Linked DNA regions of Homo sapiens. The gene in region 1 interacts genetically with each later gene. Each region holds a gene or a part of one and is shown on either strand. Other genes may lie near its edges. The genes, in order: MED13 and RB1.

Evidence for each region.
Region 2: changes in MED13 (region 1) and RB1 together harm fitness more than expected from each alone (negative genetic interaction), as found in Homo sapiens cells (one large-scale study listed by BioGRID).

Annotation. Positions count from the first base shown.
Region 1 is NC_000017.11:61,981,469-61,985,299, reverse strand, and holds part of MED13 (mediator of RNA polymerase II transcription subunit 13), read left to right. Parts: intron 1-209; coding exon 210-300; intron 301-434; coding exon 435-649; intron 650-932; coding exon 933-1,129; intron 1,130-2,185; coding exon 2,186-3,102; intron 3,103-3,831. UniProt on the Homo sapiens protein: Component of the Mediator complex, a coactivator involved in the regulated transcription of nearly all RNA polymerase II-dependent genes.
Region 2 is NC_000013.11:48,477,977-48,481,807, forward strand, and holds part of RB1 (retinoblastoma-associated protein), read left to right. Parts: intron 1-2,002; coding exon of another isoform or gene 2,003-2,021; coding exon 2,022-2,095; 3' UTR 2,096-3,831. UniProt on the Homo sapiens protein: Tumor suppressor that is a key regulator of the G1/S transition of the cell cycle. The hypophosphorylated form binds transcription regulators of the E2F family, preventing transcription of E2F-responsive genes.

The DNA.
Region 1 (3,831 bases):
TTTGGAGGCTTACCAAATAAATTAATCTGGAGTCAGTGATTAAGAAATATTTTATATCTTTCAACACTAGTATGTATTTGGCTGTATCACAGATTCAAAATACTACTTTTAATGAATGGGCTTTACTGTTAAGTTATATCTGAATGATTACTATTTTGAGATCACATTGGATGTAAAATTTTAGATAAATATGTGCTTTTTTTAAATAGCCTGGATCTAAAAAATCAGCAAATGGATCAGATGATAAAGCCAGCTGCAAGGAATCAAAGACAGGAAATCTGGACCCGTTATCTTGCATAAGTAAGCTTCCCTCATCTGTGCTCGAGATAAATTTGCGAACTTTTAATCTCAACAAAGCTCCCCACTCCTTTTGGTTTAAACACAGATTCGCCTATTTTTAGTCATGTTAAAATGTATGTTTTTATTAAATATAGGCACTGCAGATCTTCATAAAATGTATCCTACACCACCATCATTGGAACAACATATTATGGGATTTTCCCCAATGAATATGAATAATAAAGAATATGGTAGTATGGATACAACACCTGGAGGAACTGTTCTAGAAGGAAATAGTTCTAGTATAGGAGCGCAGTTCAAAATTGAGGTTGATGAGGGATTCTGTAGCCCCAAACCTTCTGAAATTAAAGTAAGTATGTTTTTTCTAGAAAAATAATTCACTTCCTATATTTTCTTATAGAATTAATTTGTTGCTATAGTCAAAAATTATTTTATAGTGGTTGCGGTTTTGTAGCTAAGTTGAGGACTGAATTATTGTTGTCACTATTAAGAATGCATTTAAGAAAATAATAGAATTGTATTTAGATTTTATTCTGTTTAAAGAAAGGAAAAAAGGTCCAGAGCCTGTTTGTTTATTTATTTTTTCCTCCTAGAAGATAAGATACTGAAAACCTACCATCTTTATATTGTAGGATTTTTCTTATGTCTATAAGCCTGAAAATTGTCAAATTCTAGTGGGATGTTCCATGTTTGCACCTCTAAAAACTCTACCAAGCCAATATCTGCCCCCTATCAAATTGCCAGAAGAGTGTATTTACCGTCAGAGTTGGACTGTTGGAAAATTGGAATTGCTTTCTTCAGGGCCTTCAATGCCATTCATCAAAGAGGGGTATGATTTATGTTGTTACAATAGTATGTGACTGCTTATACAGCTTTAATTTTTTTTTCATAGATTTACCTGGTATGCTGGAAAAATAAAATTGGTTTTTGAAAATTCTAAAAATTATTTCTGGTTAATCAATTATAGTGATTGGCTGGGAGCAGTGAATCACGCCTGTAATTCCCATACTTTGGGAGGCCAAGGCAGGCGTATCCCTTGAGGTCAGGAGTTTGAGATCAGCCTGGCCAACATACGAAACCTCGTCTCTACTAAAAATACAAAAATTAGCCAAGCGTGGTGGCGCATGCTTGTAGTCCCAGCTACTTGGGAGGCTGAGGCACAAGAATGGCTTGAACCTGGGAGTCAGGCATTGCAGGGAGCCGAGATCGCACCAGTGCACTCCAGCCTGGGCAAGAGTGAGACTTTGTCTCAAAAAAAAAAAAAAAAAGGTTAATTGGGTATGGATAAACTATTAGGAAACTTAAGACTATTATGCTTGATTTGTATTCCGAAGCACCTTTTCTTTTGGGCTGCAATTTTAAATTGCTCCCATTTTTACATTTGCCATCTTTTCCACACTTTTCACATTTTAACATCTCTGACTTGGTCAGTTTCAACTCAAGGCTAAAAGAAATCTGAATCTGAGATGTCTTATAAGTGGTAGCATTTTAAAATTACCATTTTTCCCTTTTTACACATGAGCATCTCTAAAATCATTTTTCTTTTTTTATAGTCAGTAGCATCTTAGAATCAAGGAAATATAAGTATTTCTAGTAAACAAAATTTATAGATAGTAAATATGGATGTCTAGGTATGCATTAGTGTATAGAGTGCTTATTAATGATTTTTGAACTTGTTAATTGATCCTTAGTCAACAACAATCACTTAGAGTAGATATGTTAACCAGAAATAAGAATTGACTGTGCTTGTAATTCTTGCAATACTTGTCCTTTCATAATTTTCTATGTAATTGAAAAACATTTGGGACGTTTTTAGTTGTATTTCACATTACTAATATGTTCCTTTATATATATATTTGATCTTCTTTTACCCTGGTGATGATAGTGATGGAAGTAATATGGATCAAGAATATGGCACTGCTTATACACCTCAAACTCATACTTCTTTTGGGATGCCTCCTAGCAGTGCACCTCCTAGTAACAGCGGAGCAGGAATTCTTCCTTCTCCATCCACCCCTCGGTTTCCAACTCCAAGGACTCCAAGGACTCCTCGGACTCCTCGTGGAGCTGGTGGACCTGCTAGTGCTCAAGGTTCAGTCAAATATGAAAATTCAGACTTGTATTCACCAGCTTCTACCCCATCTACATGCAGACCCCTTAATTCTGTTGAACCTGCAACTGTCCCTTCCATCCCTGAAGCACACAGTCTTTATGTAAACCTCATCCTTTCAGAATCAGTTATGAATTTGTTTAAAGACTGTAACTTTGATAGTTGTTGCATCTGTGTTTGCAACATGAACATCAAGGGTGCCGATGTTGGAGTTTACATTCCAGATCCAACGCAGGAAGCACAATATAGGTGTACCTGTGGCTTCAGTGCTGTCATGAACAGAAAATTTGGAAACAATTCAGGATTATTTCTTGAAGATGAACTAGATATCATAGGACGCAATACAGACTGTGGCAAAGAAGCAGAAAAACGTTTTGAAGCTCTCAGGGCTACCTCTGCTGAACATGTTAATGGAGGACTAAAGGAATCTGAAAAATTATCTGATGATTTGATATTATTGCTACAAGATCAGTGCACTAATTTATTTTCACCCTTTGGAGCAGCAGACCAAGATCCTTTTCCTAAAAGTGGTGTAATTAGCAATTGGGTACGTGTTGAAGAGCGTGACTGTTGCAATGACTGCTACCTTGCATTAGAACATGGGCGTCAGTTCATGGATAACATGTCAGGAGGAAAAGTTGATGAAGCACTTGTGAAAAGTTCATGCTTACACCCCTGGTCCAAAAGAAACGGTAAAGTATGCCAATAAAATACTTTTTTGTTTGCTTATTTCCCTTTAGTTACATTCTTAGGAAAAAGTAATAAAGGCAGTTTCCCATGTGGCAAATACATTTAAAGTTGGACTTAAAACTCTTTATGGATGATGTTTTTAAAGGGAGAATTTCTTAGCAGTTTAGTTTAATTTCACCAATAAAAGTATGGTTATTATAAATCTGTAATTATATACTTATGTAGGAATATGAAAGGCACATTCCATATATTTATTAGCATAACATTGCTAGTGGTCTGCTTTATTCAACATTCTTTCACTCATTAAGTATTTACTGGGCACCTTGTATGTGCCAGGTATTAGCCTAGATTCACTGTTGAACAAAGCACACATATTCTTTGCCCTTTTTGAATCTATAATTTAGTGGAGAAAATAGGAAATAAACAAAAAAGCATATAATAGATAGTAAGAAGTAATTTGGAGGAAAAGCAGAGTAAAACAGAACAAGACACCACATATGTACTATTTTAGATGTATGGTCAGATAAGATACTACTGAGGAGATAGCATATGGGAAAACTCCTACATAACATAGAATATGAGCTATGTAGTTAAATGAGGGAAGAGTGTTTCAGGCAGTGCAAAGACCCTGAGGGAGTATTTTGCTTTTACATGTTTGAGGAACATTAAGGTGACTGATGCTGCTGGAATGCTTTGTGTGATAGGGAGACTGGAAGGAGATGAAATTTAGG
Region 2 (3,831 bases), on another chromosome or scaffold:
AAAAAAATAATCCAAGGATAGTAGATGGAAAGCACATTAGGAAAGAGATAAATGTTCACTAACTACTATTGGGTTGTCTTAGGTAGTTATGGTAGTGAGTGTAACATTTCCCAGTATCTGCTGCCAGATCCATTGATAGGAAAAGGAACTGGGATTTTGAAAGAAGACAAATATTCAGGAGATAGGTGTTAAAACAATCATTCCTAGGTCACAGGACACACTAATGAGAACAATACCAATTAAAATGAGAGGCTTTCTTTTAATACATCTTTGTAGATACTAACTTTGAAAATAAGATATTTAAAAGGATGCTTTTTTTCTATGTATTTTTTTAAAGTGTAATTAAAACTAAATAACTAAAACAAAATTTTCTAGTTATAAATGAATCTCTTTTTGGATTTTATGTCAACTTACATATTCCTATTTTAACTCTTAAATAGTTGCATCTTTTCCCCTCAGTACATGAAAATAGACAAGAGGCTCATAACCAAAATCAGGCCTTGAAGACATATGGAAACATTTTGGAACCCACAAATATGCACTTAAAAAGGAGCTGAAAGCTGTAAAAACATGTATATTTTCTTAGAGAAGTGTTCAGTTGCTATAGTTAGTACATTTCCCAGTGACACACTTAGCTATGATGGCGAGCTTCCTCTGCCAGGCCAAAGTTCAGGACCTTTGTGCATCTACAAAATTGTGACAAAGCAGGCAGAATTTTAACCCCTGAGGCTAAGGCATTTCTTTAGGATGCTCTTCAGCTTTTCTTAAAGAATTACATTTAGAAAAGATCATCATACAATGCTGGATTGCCCAGAATGGAAGGGCATTCCATTTTTCCAAATGTGCTTCTTTATAAAGAACTCATGCCTACCTCTAAAATCAAGTTAAGAATTTTTAAGAAATTTAATAAGTATCCCGGCTTTGTCTATATTGTAATTCATAATATGCTTTTAACATGGCCATGCCCCGGGTAGGCATGATGGCTTATGTCTGTAATACCAGCACTATGGGAGGGCAAGGTGAGAGGATTGCTTGAGGCCAGGAGTTCAAGACCAGCCTGGGCAACATAGCAAGACCCCATCTTTACAAAAAAATCCAAAAATTAGCCAGGCCTGGTGGCATGTGCCTGTAGTCTTGGCTACTGGAGAGGCTGAGGTGAGAGAATTGCTTGAGCCCAGAAGGTCAAAGCTGTAGTGAGCCATGATCATGCCACTGCACTCCAGCTTGGGCAACAGAGCAAGACCTTGTCTCAAAAAAAAAAAATCCATGCCCAGTTTAAATGAGCTATGATTTGATGTATTTGCAGTACCTGCAAGGCATCTGCAAACATAAGGGAACCTATAGCTTTGTAAAGAATACCACCACTCACTCTGGCAGATTCAGTCTGGGCCAGCCGAGTATTCTAGTCTGCTGAAGTATATGCCAAGCATCAACCACCTCATCTCTAGAATAGTGGCCTACAAAATGGGGCATACCTGAAGTATGCAAAGTCATCTTTTGGGGTACATAAAGTAGAAGTTCTATTTATCTCATTTTAATGTTTGCTTGGGGTATGTGTTTTATAATTTGTACATACATACGTATTTTTGTGGTACAGGCTTGGAAAAAAATTTACTCACAGGGATATATGATTTTTAAAGATTTGGAGACCACTGTTTTTTTGGGGGGTGGGGAGGGAATTTTTTTTTTAATTGATATATCATAGTTATACATATTTTAGGGGTACATGTGATGTTTTGATACGTGTACACAATGTGTAATGATCAAATCAGGGTTATTGGGATATATATCACCTCAAACATTTTTCTTTGCATTGGGAACATTACAATTCTAGCTATTTTGAAATATGCAGTAAATTAACTGTAACTCCCTACGGTACTGTCAAATACTAGAATGAAGACCACTGCTTTTGCAAGGTCCTGAGCGCCATCAGTTTGACATGAGCATAATATATATGGCAGCCACTTGCCAACTTACCCAGTACCATCAATGCTGTTAACAGTTCTTCATCCTTTTTCCAGCTTCTACTCGAACACGAATGCAAAAGCAGAAAATGAATGATAGCATGGATACCTCAAACAAGGAAGAGAAATGAGGATCTCAGGACCTTGGTGGACACTGTGTACACCTCTGGATTCATTGTCTCTCACAGATGTGACTGTATAACTTTCCCAGGTTCTGTTTATGGCCACATTTAATATCTTCAGCTCTTTTTGTGGATATAAAATGTGCAGATGCAATTGTTTGGGTGATTCCTAAGCCACTTGAAATGTTAGTCATTGTTATTTATACAAGATTGAAAATCTTGTGTAAATCCTGCCATTTAAAAAGTTGTAGCAGATTGTTTCCTCTTCCAAAGTAAAATTGCTGTGCTTTATGGATAGTAAGAATGGCCCTAGAGTGGGAGTCCTGATAACCCAGGCCTGTCTGACTACTTTGCCTTCTTTTGTAGCATATAGGTGATGTTTGCTCTTGTTTTTATTAATTTATATGTATATTTTTTTAATTTAACATGAACACCCTTAGAAAATGTGTCCTATCTATCTTCCAAATGCAATTTGATTGACTGCCCATTCACCAAAATTATCCTGAACTCTTCTGCAAAAATGGATATTATTAGAAATTAGAAAAAAATTACTAATTTTACACATTAGATTTTATTTTACTATTGGAATCTGATATACTGTGTGCTTGTTTTATAAAATTTTGCTTTTAATTAAATAAAAGCTGGAAGCAAAGTATAACCATATGATACTATCATACTACTGAAACAGATTTCATACCTCAGAATGTAAAAGAACTTACTGATTATTTTCTTCATCCAACTTATGTTTTTAAATGAGGATTATTGATAGTACTCTTGGTTTTTATACCATTCAGATCACTGAATTTATAAAGTACCCATCTAGTACTTGAAAAAGTAAAGTGTTCTGCCAGATCTTAGGTATAGAGGACCCTAACACAGTATATCCCAAGTGCACTTTCTAATGTTTCTGGGTCCTGAAGAATTAAGATACAAATTAATTTTACTCCATAAACAGACTGTTAATTATAGGAGCCTTAATTTTTTTTTCATAGAGATTTGTCTAATTGCATCTCAAAATTATTCTGCCCTCCTTAATTTGGGAAGGTTTGTGTTTTCTCTGGAATGGTACATGTCTTCCATGTATCTTTTGAACTGGCAATTGTCTATTTATCTTTTATTTTTTTAAGTCAGTATGGTCTAACACTGGCATGTTCAAAGCCACATTATTTCTAGTCCAAAATTACAAGTAATCAAGGGTCATTATGGGTTAGGCATTAATGTTTCTATCTGATTTTGTGCAAAAGCTTCAAATTAAAACAGCTGCATTAGAAAAAGAGGCGCTTCTCCCCTCCCCTACACCTAAAGGTGTATTTAAACTATCTTGTGTGATTAACTTATTTAGAGATGCTGTAACTTAAAATAGGGGATATTTAAGGTAGCTTCAGCTAGCTTTTAGGAAAATCACTTTGTCTAACTCAGAATTATTTTTAAAAAGAAATCTGGTCTTGTTAGAAAACAAAATTTTATTTTGTGCTCATTTAAGTTTCAAACTTACTATTTTGACAGTTATTTTGATAACAATGACACTAGAAAACTTGACTCCATTTCATCATTGTTTCTGCATGAATATCATACAAATCAGTTAGTTTTTAGGTCAAGGGCTTACTATTTCTGGGTCTTTTGCTACTAAGTTCACATTAGAATTAGTGCCAGAATTTTAGGAACTTCAGAGATCGTGTATTGAGATTTCTTAAATAATGCTTCAGATATTATTGCTTTATTGCTTTTTTGTATTGGTTAAAACT